Linked DNA regions of Homo sapiens: region 2 is linked to region 1. A link means that fine-mapping ties the variant in region 1 to the expression of a gene that starts in the linked region. Tissue or cell type: whole blood. Region 1 holds a variant in brackets; the other region holds the start of a gene. All regions are shown on one strand. Distances are from middle to middle.

Region 1 (8,105 bases):
CTTTTAGTAAAGAGGGGGTTTCACCATGTTAGCCAGGATGGTCTCGATCTCCTGACCTCATGATCCCCCGGCCTGGGCCTCCCAAAGTGCTGGGATTACAGGCGTGAGCAACCATACACGACCATTTTTTTTCTTTTTCTCTGAGACAGAGTCTTGCTCTGTTGCCCAGGCTGGAGTGCAATGGCGCAATCTCGGCTCACTGCAACCTCCACCTCCAGGATTCAAGCAATTCTCCTGCCTCAGCCTCCCAAGTACCTGGGATTACAGGCACCTGCCACCATGCCCGGCTAATTTTTGTATTTTTTAGTACAGATGGGGTTTCTCACCATGTTGGTCAGGCTGGTCTCGAACTCCTAACCTCAGGTGATCCACCCGCCTCGGCCTCCCAAAGTGCTGGGATTACAGGCGTGAGCCACCGCATCTGGTGTGTGTAATAATTTTTTAGGTCAGAAAGCAGAAGGAAAGGGAACCTCAAAAGCTTAGATCTGAGAGGACCAGACTGGGGCATGAACAAGGAGTTTGAGTGCCCTTGATACTGGATGGATTCCCACGTTGGGCAAAAGGGAGTTAGAAGGCAAGTTAACTGAGACAACTGTGGGTCCTTAAGGAGGAATCCCAAACCACACTCCCATACACACATACTCTAAGAAATGAGTGTAGAGGAAAGATGAGAAAATCTAAGAATGATTACTGGAACCCTGGGTGGAAGAACCGATGCACCGTGTCCTGGGTGGAGCACCCAAGAATGTGGCCAAACTTCAAAAAGATGACTATACTTTGTCTAGGCAGACAGAGCCCTGGCTCCTTAGATAGGTGTGAGGGCAGCAGATGTTTCCTTGGCACCATGACATGGCACAGAAAACCTTTACCCCTGGGGGAGACTTACGAAAGGGAAAGAGGCCAGCTGAGCTGCAACCTTCATGGACCAGAAGGGGCAATGGACGACTCAGTAGACATCAGCATGAATAGGTCACTCTTAAGGGCCTGGCCCCGTGACCTCATAAGCCCCTGTATTTTCAGGCCCAACCCCAGAAACAGAGGAACGTTTCTCTCAATTGACAAAGAATTGATTTCTGCCATCCTGAAGTTCAAAATAGACATTAAATTGAGAATTTAGCTAAATAAAGGAATCCACCTTTTGGGACACCTGAATTGATGAACCACTCTACAGAGGACTGGGCATCCCCCACAGAGCAGGCAAAGAAAGGGCAAGGATGCCAAAATGAGACTAAGATGGCCCAGTTCTCCCAAGTGAATCCAAACCAGGATCTTCATTTTTCCTAGATTAAAAAAGAAAAATGGGCCAGGCGTGGTGACACACACCTGTAATCCCAGCACTTTGGGAGGCCAAGGTGGGCAGATCATGAGGTCAGGAGATCAAGACCATCCTGGCCAACATGGTGAAACCCATCTCTATTAAAATACAAAAAATTAGCCAGGTGTCATGGCAGGCGCCTGTAGTCCCAGTGACTCAGGAGGCTGAGGTAAGGTAATCGCTTGAACCCAGGAGGCGGAGGTTGCAGTGAGCCGAGATCACGCCACTACACTCCAGCCTGGTGACAGAGCAAGACTCCATCTCAAAAAACAAAACCAAACAAAGAAAAACTACCTTAAAGCCTCTCAAAGCTACAGGGAGAGTCAATGCTTTTAGCATTGATGGTTTTTCCTCTTCTTACCAAGTCAGTGCTTCATATTTATTGGGTGTCAGAGACCATGGTTGGACAAGGCAGAGGTGGAGAGCATGGAGGAAGATGGCCTCAGCCACAGTGGCAAGAGTCTTACTTCCCACCCAGTGCCTCCAACCAGGAGGGACCCCAGCCTCTAACCCACAGCCAGCCTGAGAACGGGGTGTTGTGCAGAGGGTGAGCAAAAGCCCTGTTCACAAATGCAAGAGCCTGACCCCACCATTGCCAGCTTCAAAGCCCTGAGCAGGCGACACCTCAGGGACACTCGCTCCCTGTGCAGGAGGAAGAATATGGGACCAGCTAAGGCAGGAGGACTGGGATCCTGCACACATCATTCACGTGACTCAGCAAGTGACTTCGCCTCCCAGCTTTGTTTTCCCTCCTGGGTCACTTCTGGCTAGGGAAGGTGGTGAGAGAGCAACAAGGATCAGTGAAGACTATCCACGTAGCTCCTTAAAGCTGAGTTCTGACACCCAGGCCCCAGCGGCTCACACTCCACAGCTGAAGAGGAGTTTGTTGTGTGGTCCCAGACACATCCCTCCTCCCACATCTGACAATAAGGCCAGTGCTCTGAGCTTCTTGTCACACAGAATGCCATTCCCTTCTGCCACACTTCCCAGCCACCCAAGAGTCGTGATCTCGTTTTTCTTCCTACCCTTTGTTGTCAAACAGTTACGCTGGCAGGACAAACACTACAAATCTTACCTTTTCTTAGCAATTGCATTGATTAAAAGATCTATGTCTTTCCTCAAAGAAAGAGATTATAGGAGTGAGACACAACCCTTGGAAATGGACATTTTACCAAAACGATGCAAAATCGAACTATGGGGTCCCAGTGGATGAAAACTATTCCCCCAGCAAAATTTTTTTGTTTCCTTTTTCTTCTGTAAGAAATCATCAAAGCAAGACGATATGCACCCAGGCCACGGCCATTCGTTGGCACTGCCTGGGGAGCCTGCCGCTCTTGGTCTTCCTCTCCTGGGATCTGAAAAATCAGCAAGGAGTCACAACTTGAGCTCCAGGCCTTCCTGCGCAAGCGACCAAGTAGCAGTGAGCCGTGTCACTGCGGGGCCGGGGCCTGAATGCAATCCTCATTCTAACCACAAATCCCAACATTCGAGGACACACTTCTGGGCATTTTCTTTTCTACCTTTCCTGAGTCTTTTTGTTTTTTAAAGCTAATATTTTAAAAAATATTACATAAACCTGTGTTATCCCACTTGGGAGTTTTTGTTCCAACTAAGGTTTGGAATTTTTTTCTAATTTTCAGACAGTAACTGTAACAAAAATTCACACCAGCCCTGGGCTCCTCTTTTGGCAAGACGATGTAATAATTCCATTCCAATTGACTCAGTCTGTTGAAGTTGATGTTCCAAAATGGTCTAACACCCACTTTATTAACATTAGAGCTAATTTCTTTTGAAGGGAGTTTAAAGCAGCCAGGACTTAGATTCTGGGGTTAATTGGTCTGTTTGCCACTGTTTGTCAGGGCCGTCTTTAAAGAACATCTTCAAAGACTTGCTCTGATACTCGCTCCCGCATTGTCTGAAATGCCTCAAATGCCTTTATCAATGCCAAAAAATGCAGTGAGTGAAAGGGCTTTTTACTTAATTATTTCTGAAAACCAAAAAGGGGATTCCATATAGACAGTTAATGAGAATTGACACAATGAAATTAAAATGCATGTTCAAGCCACAAAAGCCAGAAGAGCCACACTTCTAACCAGGGCAGGCAATGGGAAGAGTCCATCCTACCCCAGCCCTCCGCCTCACACTCAGGGATGGGGCTTCATTTTCTTATCTCTTGAAATTGTTTCCATTTTCAAACCCGAGCTGATTTGGTTGCACAGGTTGCTTAGCAACCCACGGGACAACAGTATTTGGTTTTAAGATGCCAACATCTGCACATCATTCAAAGTATAATTTTTAATTCAAAAACTTATGTCTGGAGACAGGGAAGAAAATGTAACTTTGAAAAATAAAACAGAACTGGATTTCTTCATACAAGTCCTCCTGCCGCCCCAGTCCCCACCCCTAAGCAATTCATGGATTATGTGGCTGCTTTTCGCAATTCCATGTCTACATTCATATTTTTTCCAGTTTCTTTTCTGGGTAAATAAGAGTAGGAAAGGAGAGCAAAATGGAGCATTTCTTCAGGTGTCCAGAAGAAAAGTAGAAAAACCTGCATTTTATCTCTAATGTAATTAGGAACGCTTCAGAGCAGAAGACAAAAATATCTGGGCCTCCATTTTATTGAGAATTACGGTTATTGTGGATCCAACGTTCTGCCTAAGTC[G/A]GATAAGAATCAGGATATGTCTCTTGACAGCCATTCTATGATGGGGCACTTGGTCTACACTAAGATATTCTTTGCTACATCTGGAGAACCCAAGGCTACTACTTCCCCCAACCAAAATAAGTAAATGGCAACCCCAAAATGAAATCAGAGAAACCAACCAGCAGAGAAACTCAGATATCCAACACCTAATCAGGAGTTAACTTCGTGATCTCTAAATACAGCTCACATTTTGAGAACCTTGGTCTCCATTATGTCAAATCCAGACACGGCTGGGTGCTGTTTTGGGCCTGGCATTTCTTGGAAATTGCACCTTCCAGTTCTTGCCGTTGTTTAAACTCCCAGGTATCAATATATTTGCATGTTGTTTGAGGAAAAATGCAACAGAAACCGCCACAGGGGAATCAGATTTGGAAAGAATAAGGGCAACTCCAGAACAACACCTTTCTTTTTAAAAAACCCAAATGGCAGTGCAAACTGATGCTATCATTCCACTGGCCTCTGCTTGAGCGAATACATTAGCCTCAGCTCCTTCTAATCTGGAGAGGTCACATTACCTGCTGGAAAGCAGAGGAAACCCTAAATCACTTGACGCCAGAAAAAATAGCCAGGAAAACTCGAGTGAGCAGAGGAACCACAGATCTCCATTTAGGAAAGGGTCTCCTTAACCGGTCAGCTTCGGAAGGGCTTTAACTAGGAGATCCTCCAGCAGGAAAAACAAAGGGCTTGGTGCTTTGCTAAAACAAAAACACACAAACACAACTCCCTCACCTTTCAACATAACACCCTAACCCATTGTTAGGTTCTGGCCACTAGGATTTTTTGCCCAGAGCAGAGATCTGATTACTGTTATCTCCACTTGCATAACTACAAATGTTATCATTACTTCTCAACTGATATGGCTCTGTTTTACAAACACAATGGAAGGCTGTATGTACACTTGCCCTCTCACCAGAAGGGCTGGTTTAAAATAGATGAAAAAAAGAGAGAAGAAAGAGGGGGCTGGGAACTGAAAGGCAGGCCTGCTGAATGAGCCTTTCAGAAAGAATTATGTGATAGGTTTTGTGTGTGTGCTTTTTAAAAACGCTGCTGCCAAAGCTCAGAATTGAAAAGTATGCAGTGGGCATTGTTTCAGAAACACAATGATTTATTTTGCTGGTTCATTTTCAAACAAGGGCTTTCTCCTTATTCCCTGAAATGTGTTTTGGGCCCAAATCTTCAAAATGTGAGGAACAGAAGTTATGCAGAGAGCCGGGTCCGATTCAAGATAAACAAGCATTATATTATAAATATGACAGTGGCATATCCCTGGCCTCCAAAGAGCCTCGTCTGTTTGCCCAGACTGCAGGCATTTTCTCCATCCAAAAAAAAAAAAAAAACCCCAAAAAAACCCAAAAAACAAAACAAAAAAAAACCTCACAGGGGTAGAAGCAGGGTTCCTCTGGTCAGCCTTCCTGGCTGCAGGGCCGGAGAGAGGCCTGGTCATTGAGCCCCTCAAAGCCAGAGCTTGTATACACAGGCTGGGTCAAAATCAGGAGTACAAGACATGTGGCTTCTTTGTTTTCCTGGTCCCATCCCACAAAGCTGAAGCCTCATCCCCGTTAATTCCCACTCTGTTTCCTCCAAGATTGCATGGAAGTTCCTGGAGGCTCACTCGGGCCTGGCTGTGGGAGGTAGGCCAGAGAAGGGGAAGGATCTGATCCTCAAGGGGGCCATCTGTCCACACAGCAGCTACTAGCAGGACTCTCCTGCCTCTGGCCCTCTGCCCACGCCACTCTTAGCCATACTGGACTGCAGAGTTTGCACCGTGAAGTGGGCAAAGCTTTGCTGCAGGCCCTCTCAGGTTGGGCCCCTTCTAGAACCCTTACTTGATTTTTTTAACAATATATTTTTTTAATTATAACTAATTCACATGCCATAAAATTCACCCTTTTAAAGTGGACAATTCGGTGTTTTGTAGTATATTTGCAGACGTGTCCAATGATCACACAAATTCCAGAACATTTCATCACCCCCAAAAGAGACACTGCCTGTATCTCATCTGAAATTTATCATTTCTAATTTTGTTTTCTAAAGAGGGTCTCAAATTGTTTAAACCTTAAGTCATCTAACAATTAAATTCACCTCTGGATTCAGAGACCTCCTGTAAAGCAGCCTCAGGTCAGCCTCCCTAAGATCACTGGACAGATCATTCTACTCCAGAACCAGAGACCCCGGGCGATGGGAGGCGTGGATGCCCTGGATCGCAGATCCCCGCCACCTGCCTGGGGTTTCTGGTTTTACCACCATTTCCCCAGGTCCTGGGCAGGATGCACAGTCCCCTCTGGAGGACCCAGCTAAACCCAACCTCTCTTGCTTCTCTGGGGCATCTCCCCAGTCCTGAGAGCATGGGGACCCCATAACCTAACTCTTCATCTAGTTCTCCTTTTAAGCCCAAACCACAAGAATTTGACTCTCTCATTCTCTGAATTGTGTCATCCCTTATCTGAGGCTGGGAGGAGAAAGAAGTAGCTGCCTCATCAAAGGTCACAAAATAACTGAAAGTAATGCTTGGAAGTTGCTGAGAACAGCCATGGACATCAGGCTTAAGTGGTACAGGGTTCACCTGCAGCAGAAAGGAGAAAGCAAAGGTACAACACCCAGCCGCTCCCCAGCTTTTGGTCCCCTAAGGCCATCGGATCTGCTCTGTAGCTGAGGTAGGTGATGGGGCTGCGTACAGCCTGCTTCATGCTGCAGTTGAAGAAAAGGACCCACTCTTCCCCTGTGGGGGGGATCACAAAATAACTGAAAGTAATGGTTACCAAAACCCCTCCAGGGCCAATTTATCCAATTACTCTCCTGATACACATGGCATAATACAGCTCCAGACTTGCAGCAATTGAAATGTCACTGCCTGGAGGCTGCTCCAAGCAGAGCCAAGGGTGATGCCAAGTGGCCTTGTAGCAGGAACCCTCCCTGAGATTCATACCCCTTCCTCAAAAAAGGAGGTGGCTTTATGAGCCATCTAAAAAAATTTTTTTTAAATAAAAAAAAAGGACCCAGGGCTCCTTTCCCCTTGACACTGCCACCTGAAGAAACAGTGGGGCTGGGAGCCATGGTTGCAAAGATGAAGCTCTGCTCAAAGAATCAGGGCCCAGGGGGTCCTGGTCTACCATAAAATCATTAATTTGGGGTTATATATTCACTTTCACACTCTGAACCTCCATTTACCACCTGCAACATGCCAAGCTACTTTGGTTGTAGTTCTCTAGTACTCCCTGGTGAGATCTCATCTCCCTTCAGGGATCACTTGATTTGTGTTTTTACTTGATTTCACTTAATTGAAAAGACTGAGAAATGGATGGAACACAAAGAAAGCCCAAAATTCCCCTTGGGTGGCCCAGGGCAAACATCTGAGGTCATTTGCTGCCCTGGAAGAAGACTGTCTGAATGATGGAGCCAGGCCAGGTGGAGGAGCCCCAGGTCAGCTTTCTATCCTGGGAAAGAGGAAAGGAAGCCAGCACTTTCCAGTCACTTCTACATCAGTAAATGGCAGGCCTGAGGTTGGAGCCATCACCAAGGGTCCAAATAGTGGTGGTGAGGGTAATGGTGACAATGATAATGGCAGCAGCTCCCCTGTGTTCCCTTGCCAAGCACTGTGCAGTGCAGTTCACATTCAGGACTTTGTTTACTTCTCACCACCATTTTATGATGCAGGTACTGATATTATCCCTGTTTTGCAGATGAGGAGAAAGCACATTAAAGAGGTGAGAACATTTGACCAGGGTCATACAACTAGGTATTGAGAGAGAAGCACTTTCACTCCGTCCACCTGCCTCTGGACTCTTGCTCTTAACCACTGCTCTACGCTTCCTCATCTGGGAAAGGCCAAGAACAGGCCATCCTCTGGTTCCAGTGCAGAGATGGCCTTCCCAGCCTGGACCAAGCAATGAAGTGGGTTTAGGCTTCCCTCATGTTAGGATTGAACTTTTATTGCTTTATTTTCTATGGGAAATGGATATCTGACCTCAAAAGTAACTATTAATATCTCAATTATCTAGGGGAGAAAATGCAACCCTACCTCACACCACATGGCCAAATAAATTCCATCTGTATCAAAGATTAAATGATACATTGAAATCATAAAAA
Region 2 (8,105 bases), 160 kb after region 1:
CTGCTAAATGTCTTCAACCTCTGTAGAAGGGTGAGGAAACTGAGCAGATGCAAATTCTGATGAATAATGCAGGAATTTATTAATAATGATGATGTAAATTATGTAAATTATAGTCATGGTATGTGATTGGACCAATAACTTTCCATATGCAAACCTACTGGCTAAATTTTCAGAGTATAAGTTAGAAGAGGACACTCAACTTAATATTCTGTTCACCCATTTGATCCAAGGGAAAGAGAATTTTCCAAGAAAGCTTAATATATTCCAAGCAACTTTAAATTCACTCAGTACTCTCTGTGACTAAGGGTACAGTAAAATGCACAAACTTTAGAGAATGATTAAAACAATCACAAGAAGGGGCTCATCAATCTCAGGCTTCAGATTCTGTGAACCACAGGAATGAACCACATTTTCTAAGACTGGGGGTGGCAGGGAGGCCTTTAATACAAAAATCTCTAAACTCTACATTTTTTATGTACCCACTCGATGTTTCAAGTTATGTCATAGGATTTCAACACTGCTGGAGCCTCCCCAAATCTCATCATAAAAACTGCTCCTTTTAGCTTTGACTGAGGACAAAAATGGAGGAGGGAAAAGAATATGCCACATCATTTCCAAAGGAGGAATAAAGAAAACCTCTGCTTCAAAGATAGCACAGGTGAAACGGTGTGATTCACAGCAAAAGCAAGAAAAGTATGTGTGCAGTGTGTGTGTGTGTACACGGTGTGTGTGCGTGCATGGTGTGTGTGTATGCACGGTGTGTGTGTGTACATGGTGTGTGCGTGCACGGTGTGTGCATGTGCTTTCAGATAGCTTGAAAGATTTTTCCTCTTAACTTTTCTTTCCTCTTAGTCAAGAGCCTCAGAAGATAATTTCGGATCTATTTCTACATACATGTGGGAGGAAAGTACACAAACATTCTCATTGATTTACTAAGCATTTGCAGAATGCAGGGGAATTTTCTACCTCTAACACGACTTCAGGAACAATCCTAAGTCCTCGCAGAGGTTTCACCCCAGGCTCCTTCCCCGGCCTGCTCGCCCACCTGTCCCTGCCCAGAGGAGCCTCCTTGGCTCCAGGCAGAGAAAGGTGGACAGGGCGCTCCGCTGAATCTCAAGCCGTTCCATCATCCCGCTAGCTGGCACTAGAAATTTGCATTTCAGCCATTTCCAGGTCCAAACCCCACGGCAGCCCCCTCCCCAAAACTCTGGAAGGCGGAGACCTAAGGCGACAGGTCTGCACAGTTCCTCACACCAGTGGACAAAAGTATGGTGCGACCTCCTAGGCAGGATAATTAGGTCCCCAGGCTCGGTGTTGGGAATACAGGCCCAGCATGCCGCTGGCGGCCACAATCCCGGCTTCCTGCCTTCAATACCATAATCCTTCCTGGAGTCTGAGCCCCAGTGAAAGCCCCAGCGTGTTTATTTTTCCCCTTGAAAGGGAACTCTCTTCTCAGCCTGCACGCGGGAGGAGTTGTCACCCTCCCTCTGATGGATGGCTCTTCTCGGCCGCCCGCCCCCCGGTCCATTTTCACCTCGGCACAAGCCTGCCCCCAAAGACAGGCAGAGTGACAAGCAGGAAGGGCTTGGCTGCGGAGCGGTCCCCATGCCAGGCCTGTGCTGGGCTCTTCAATTTACCATGACATTCCCAAAACCCCCGCCCTCCAAGAAGGCAGACCAATACAGTGCCCTCCGCTTTGGGCTTCCACCTAAGGGGTGATCTGTCCACTGCTGGCTCGGCCACTGGGATCACCTGGTGTTTTGTTCCTGGGTAGATTTCACATCAGGAAAGTCAACAGTGTCCGGCTCCTCCAAAGTGCAGACCCATCTCTTCGCTTAAGGCCTCCCTACTTCTCCCCAGCACTGAGTAGGAGCGGGAGCTGTCAAGGGGTCAAGGCTAGGGGGAAATTCCTCAACAAATTGAAATCTCAAAAAACACACACTGACCCAGGACCACAAAGCCCTCCCGGTTTAATGCTTGCGTCCAATCAGAACTTGCGAGCAGCTTGGGGGTGCTCCCCACCACCACCCCCTTTCAGGGCAGCACTTCTTTCATTTGTTTGCCTGAAATATCCTGTTTTTCTCCCCCTTCTCGGGGCGCTAAAGAGCTCAGAGAAATCTGCATTTTAATTGACATTCCAGGGAAAGAGAGAGGGGCGCCTGATTGCTTTTCTATTCAAACTAAACAGGCTTTTCAGATGAAAATGAGTCGAGCCCGGTGGAAGATTTACAGGGATTTGGGACCAGGGAGACAATGGAGTTTTAAATGTTGATAGCGTTTCACACCAAACACATAATGGGTGCCCTGAGTTTGAAAGCAGGTTTGCCTTTAAGGGTAGGTTTTATTGAATTGGGAGAAAGGAAGGAGGGTCTGGAGAACGGTCTGCAAGGGAGCGGGGTGCGAGGAGAGCGACGGAGGCTGGTGGTCCCCGAGCGGGCCTCCTGCGCCAGGTCCGTGGTCCGCGAGGGTCGGAGCCAGCGCCACGCAGGGCCCTCGGCTTTTTTCCCCAGCGCGGCCCCGTGGCCGAAAAAAATGAGCGCGCAAGTTAGAACTCGCCTGCGCTTTCGACATCTCCCAGCCGCTGCGGCAGAGCAGGCAGGCGAACTAGAAAAAGTCGGTCCAGTTCGCCCCCTAGCCCCAGGCGCACTGCGCTCCCTCCAGCGCCGACGGCGGCTGCGGGCGAGGGGCGCCCAGGCACCGGAGCCGTCGCCTCCCCAGCAGTGCCACCCCTGGCCATCGCCACCCCTACGGGATGTCACCGGCCCCACCCCAGCGGCCCCCTCCCGAAAAAGGGGTCTCCGCAGGGCCTGGATGGTACGGAAGTTCCCAGGACACACGGATGGGGCACCTCGGAGATGACCCCGGGAACCGGCCTGCGGGGCTGTGCCACGGGCAGGCGAACCTTCCGCCCGTCTGCTCTGGGGTCGGAGAAACGCGCCCAGTCAGCGGGAATGCGCCCGCCAGGGTTTGACAGGGAGGGGGGCGTCAACGCCAGAAGCAGATGTCAGCATCTGGATGGGGGTAGCAGAGGCAGAACTTCCAGAACGCCGGCCGTCAGCACGCACCCACCTCCCCCATCACCTATGCAGCCACAGAGGGAGGACACGGAGCGTCCTCCACAATGCTAGTCCTTCCGCGCCCCCCGCCCGGAGGACGGTGCACCCGGCGTCCCGGGCTCCCGTGGCGCCCACGTCCCCGGCTGGCGAAGCTCCCCGAGGCGTCTTGCGCGGCGATTACCTTGAATGGCAACGCTCCTCCGCGACCTGTGTTGTCCCCGCGCCCCGCGTGGGTCGGGATGGAGAAAGCGACGAGCCCGGGGTTGCGGGGAGCAACTCCAAACGCAGAAGAGTGGTCCTTGGGTCTTCGCCGGCGCCAAGCCTCCCGGGCTTCACGCGTACCCCAGGCTGCGGAGGAGCGCGGGCATGACGCCCGCGGGCTGCCCTCGGATTTGGGGAACGAGAGGAAGAAAGGACTCAGGCTTGGCGTTGCCTCCACCAAACTTTGCTCGCGAGTTGCGAAGGCTCAGAGCGCGCAGGCAAGCTGCGGCCTCGGGGCCCCCGGGGCTCGCGGCCGGCCCCCGCCAGCCCGGAGAGCAGTCGCCGCGCCGGGCCAGGTACGCCGCATGCAGCCCCGCGGCGCCCGAGCTTTGTGGCGGCCGCGCGCGCTCCCTCGCCCGCTCCGCACCCGCCGCCCGCCCGCTCGGCTCTCCACCGCGCTCTCCTCCAGCCGCCGCCCGCGCCGCCGCCGCCGCCCCCGCCTCCTCGCGGCGGGTCACGCCCCCACTGAAACCCGAGCCGTTTCCTGGACGGCGGCGCCCTCTCTGCCAATCAGCGCCGCGCGCCCGGGCCGCCCCGAGTCCCGCGCGGCTCCCGACGCCTCCGAGCAGCCGGAGACACCGGCCCGGGAGGCGAGGGCTCGGCCGCGATGCGGCCGTAGGGATGCAGCGACAGCCTCCGAATAAGGCCTGGTCCCGCGCCCCGCGCCACCTCCTCCCTCCTCCCCGGGCGAGCGAGGCTGGCCAACGGCTCGCTGAGCGACTGCGTTACGTTGTTTTATGTCAAGTTAGAAAACAAATGACCGAAGGCTCTAACCCTGCCCTCCCGCTAAAGAGACTTTAAAATGCGCCTGCTTGATACTGCGGGGAGGGTTGCCAGGCAGCTGAAGCTTTTGGAGGAGAGGAAGCCACTTGGAAATGTTCGCAGGACATTGCATGTTTCTGTCCTTCTAAACAATAGAAATGAGAGGAAAAAACTGAATATTAATGGAGGCCCTACTATGGGAGGGTCACACTACATAGGTGATTCTATTTCATCTGCCCAACCACCCTGCAGAGTACTATTCCCAGTTTCTGATAAGGAAACAGGATCAGAGAGGTTAAGTAATTTGCCTAGGACCACACAGCTGGCTACTAGGACAGCCTGACTTTGAATGTGGCTCTCTCAGAAAAAGCCAAAATTGCATCAAAAAAAAAAAGTGTTTAATAATATATGTTTGGATTAATAAAAAGAAATTCAAAGGAGTCTAAAGACAACTCTACCATAAATAGACCTTGAACAAAGTAATTCCTCCCTCTGAATCTTAGATTAAAAATCATAAATGCAAAATCTGATTCTTCAACTGCACACCAAGCTGTAACTGGTTAAAGTTCCTATGTCCATTTACCTTTTCACTAAGCCGTGTCTTCGGAATAATTTATTTTAAATATGCTTTTTCTCCCTCCTTATTCATCCAGCTCCTGAGCAGCCGTGCTTAAGTTCAAGACCATATAGATTAAAACCTTAATTATTTTTCTTTAGAAAAGGTCACTAAACCCAGAAATGCTTTAGAATCCTTTTGAGGCCTGAAGATAGATGAAGCATTGAGAACAAACCTGACTTGGAAAACAGACTTTTCCTGGATTTAGAAACATATTTGCACCTGTGTCACTAACATTGCACCCTTCATAACATTTACAAAAATATTTTTCAAGGTGCTACATGATTAGAAAATCATTTTTATTCACAAATATAGCACAGAAAACGTTTATGCAAGTTATTTAAAAGCCACACAAGTAAGAAATCCATTTAACTGCCTCAGGCAAAAGGCTATAACATTGTATTTTGGAAATTTGATAGCAACAAAATAAAAACTGGTTCTTAAGCAAAATTATCCCTCTATATGCTTGGTGGGAGGGTATGTTTTTGGTCAAGTCCTCTAACCTGGATTAGCCCCAGAGCCTATACATTAACGGACACCTCAGCCCAGGTTGACACTTAGCCATTCACTCCCACACGGGTTGTTCTGATAGCAGTATGTTTTCAAGTTCTCAGAAAAGGGATGCAGCTGAACGTGTCTGCCTGCTCGCAGGTTGCCACTTACATCTTTATATTCCCCACCAATGGGAAACTCGAGTGTCTCAGGACAGTTCCTTTCCCATCCTACACCGCATCCATCAGCCATTGAAAATGCTGTTAACACATTCTCACATAAATTAATGGTGCAGGAAGCCGCTGTCCCTATCCCCCATTCATCAATAGCTTTATGCATGTTGAATGGAAAGGAAGCTTTCCGCTGAAAATGACAAATAAGAACACCTACTTTCATGTCCAGGCACAGTTTGCAGAATGTATTTTTTATAGAAATGAAAAGACACCAATCTATCAAAAGCTCCTTATTCCCTAAAGAGGGCTCATATATAAGGGACTGAAACCCACAAGACCACAACAGGAAACTCTTCAGTTTTGAGGAGGGGGGGGAAGTATGTTTAGAATTATTTTTAAAAAATCAATTATGTCCCCATATTTAGTCTTCAAGTGACCTCAGACCATCCAGGAAAACCTTCACACCACTGAGGCTTCTGAATGAGAAAATAATCTCTTTACAGTTTTTTCTTTTCTCTTCCCTCTTCAAGTGGCTGGAACCCCTTTCGTCAATGGCCTCCCATGAATGGTGTTGCTAATAAAGCCTATTAATGAGCTTCCACGGCGGAGTGTGAATAGGTAAATAAGCCCCAATCTGTTGAGGTTCTGGGGCAAGGGCAGAAAAGCCAGTAAGAACTAAAGGTGACAGTTTGAACTGAACTGCGAACGCCAGCACCAGGTTTCAGCTGAAAGAACCGCCAGACAAGGACACATTCACAGTTCCTCCACCCCCTACTGAGGTCTCTTTTCTTCGCAATTTTCCCCCCTTTACAAAATGTCTTGAGTAGTCACCCTTTTTTTTTTTCAAAAGCCCTCGAGACGCCCTTCTTTTTTCACTCTAGTAATGATACATCAATGGGAAGGAAGAAAAATGAGGACACCAGAACTCCGATGCCCCCAAAAGTTTCAAGAAACAAATTGTGCTGCTAGCCCGTTGGTGATGGGAAGAGAAAGGAGAAGGGGGTGGGAGCGCTCACTACCATGGGCCTCTCTCCTTTGAAGATTTGGAATTTTTCTTTTAATAATTTGTTTTGTAATGGGTGGCTGTTCCTTCACTCTATGGAAACGTTAGATGAAATAAAGGCTGCTGACATGAAGTGCTCATGAACCTTCCCGGGTGGATCTGAGCTCCCTGCAACACCAGGAATTTCATTCTCTAAGCTACATCTCAATAGTGCCCTCGGCATAAAAGAAGCACTCAAATGGAAGGATATAGAATAGTCGGAGGACTATGATAAGAGTATTTACTTCTGGGTAAGGGGAGGGGCTGGATGCTGTGACAGCTCCAGCCCATCTTCAGGGAGCTTGTGGCATTTAAGTGAAGCAAAATCATTGATCCCACTACTGAACAGCATCAATGATTTTAAACTTAGAACTGGGCCTGAATTCCAAAGCCAAGGCTTCCCCGGAGACAAAGTCCTTCTGGAAGTATAGCCTCACTTTGAGGCAAAGGGGAATGGCTTTCTTAAGGTGAGAGGCTGGATGCAGCTTTCTTTACTCAATAGCTTTGTGACCTGTGGCCGGGCGCAGTGGCTCACGCCTGTAATTCCAGCACTTTGGGAGGCCGAGGCAGGCGGATCACTTGAAGGCAGGAAGTCGAGACCAGGCTGACCAACATGGTGAAATGCCGTCTCCACTAAAAACACAAAAATTGGCCGCTTGTGGTGGCGCATGCCTGTAATCCCACATACTCTGGAAGCTAAGGCATGTGAATCGCTTGAACCCAGGAGGCTGAGGTTGCAGTGAGCTGAGATCGCCCCACTGCACTCCAGCCTGGGTGACAGAGCAAGATTCCCTCTCAAAAAACAACAAAAAAAGGCCTGGCATGGTGGCTCACACCTGTAATCCCAGCACTTTGGGAGGCCGAGGCAAGTGGATCACCTGAGGTCAGGAGTTCAAGACCAGCCTGACCAACATGGAGAAACCCCGTCTCTACTAAAAATACAAAATTAGCTGGGCATGGTCGTACATGCCTGTAATCTCAGCTACTCAGGAGGCTGAGCCGGGAGAATCACTTGAACCTAGGAGGCAGAGGTTGCGGTGAGCCGAGATCGTGCCATTGCACTCCCGCCTGGGTAACAAGAGAGAAACTCCGTCTCAAAAAAAACAAACAAACAAACAAACAAACGCTGTGTTACCTCAGGCCAGTTGCTTGAGTTATCTGAGTTTTCCATTTTCTCAGCTGTAAAATGGGGAAAATAATGGTTCTTATTTCCTGGATTTTTTTTTTCTTTTTTTTTTTTGAGACAGAGTTTCACTCTGTCACCCAGGCTGGAATGCAGTGGCACGATCTCGGCTCACTGCAGCCTCCACCCTCAGGGTTCAAATGATTCTCCTTCCTCAGCCTCCTGAGTAGCTGGGACTACAGGTGCCTGCCACCGCGCCCAGCTAATTTTTTGTATTTTTAGTAGAGATGGGGTTTCACCATCTTGGCCAAGCTGGTCTTGAACTGCTGACCTCGTGATCCACCCGCCTCGGCCTCCCAAAGTGCTGGGATTACAGGCGTGAGCCACCGCACCCGGCCTCTCCTAGATCTTTAATAGGATCACTAAGAGGATGAAATGAGTTAGGACGTGACAAGCACTTAGTTTTTCTTTGTTTTTGTTTTTTTATTTGTTCGGGTTTTTTTGGTTGTTTTGTTTTTGCCTTTGTTTTTGTTTTTGTTTTTTGGTTTTTTTTGAGATGGAGTCTTGCTCTGTCATCCAG

The links. PIP is the estimated chance that this variant, and not a neighbour inherited with it, causes the effect.
Region 2: it holds the start of FGFR2, and the variant in region 1 is fine-mapped to the expression of FGFR2 in whole blood (TOPMed, PIP above 0.99).

What each region holds. Positions count from the first base shown.
Region 1 is chr10:121,432,121-121,440,225 of GRCh38, forward strand. No RefSeq gene overlaps it. Among named protein-coding and RNA genes, the nearest start is that of FGFR2, 160 kb to the right of the region's middle. The variant G/A (reference allele first, on the strand shown) is at 3,981.
Region 2 is chr10:121,594,725-121,602,829 of GRCh38, forward strand. It overlaps FGFR2 (fibroblast growth factor receptor 2), which reads right to left and starts at 3,720. Exons shown (of 18, transcript NM_000141.5): 1 at 3,238-3,720. RefSeq lists enhancers at 1,455-2,190, 2,191-2,926.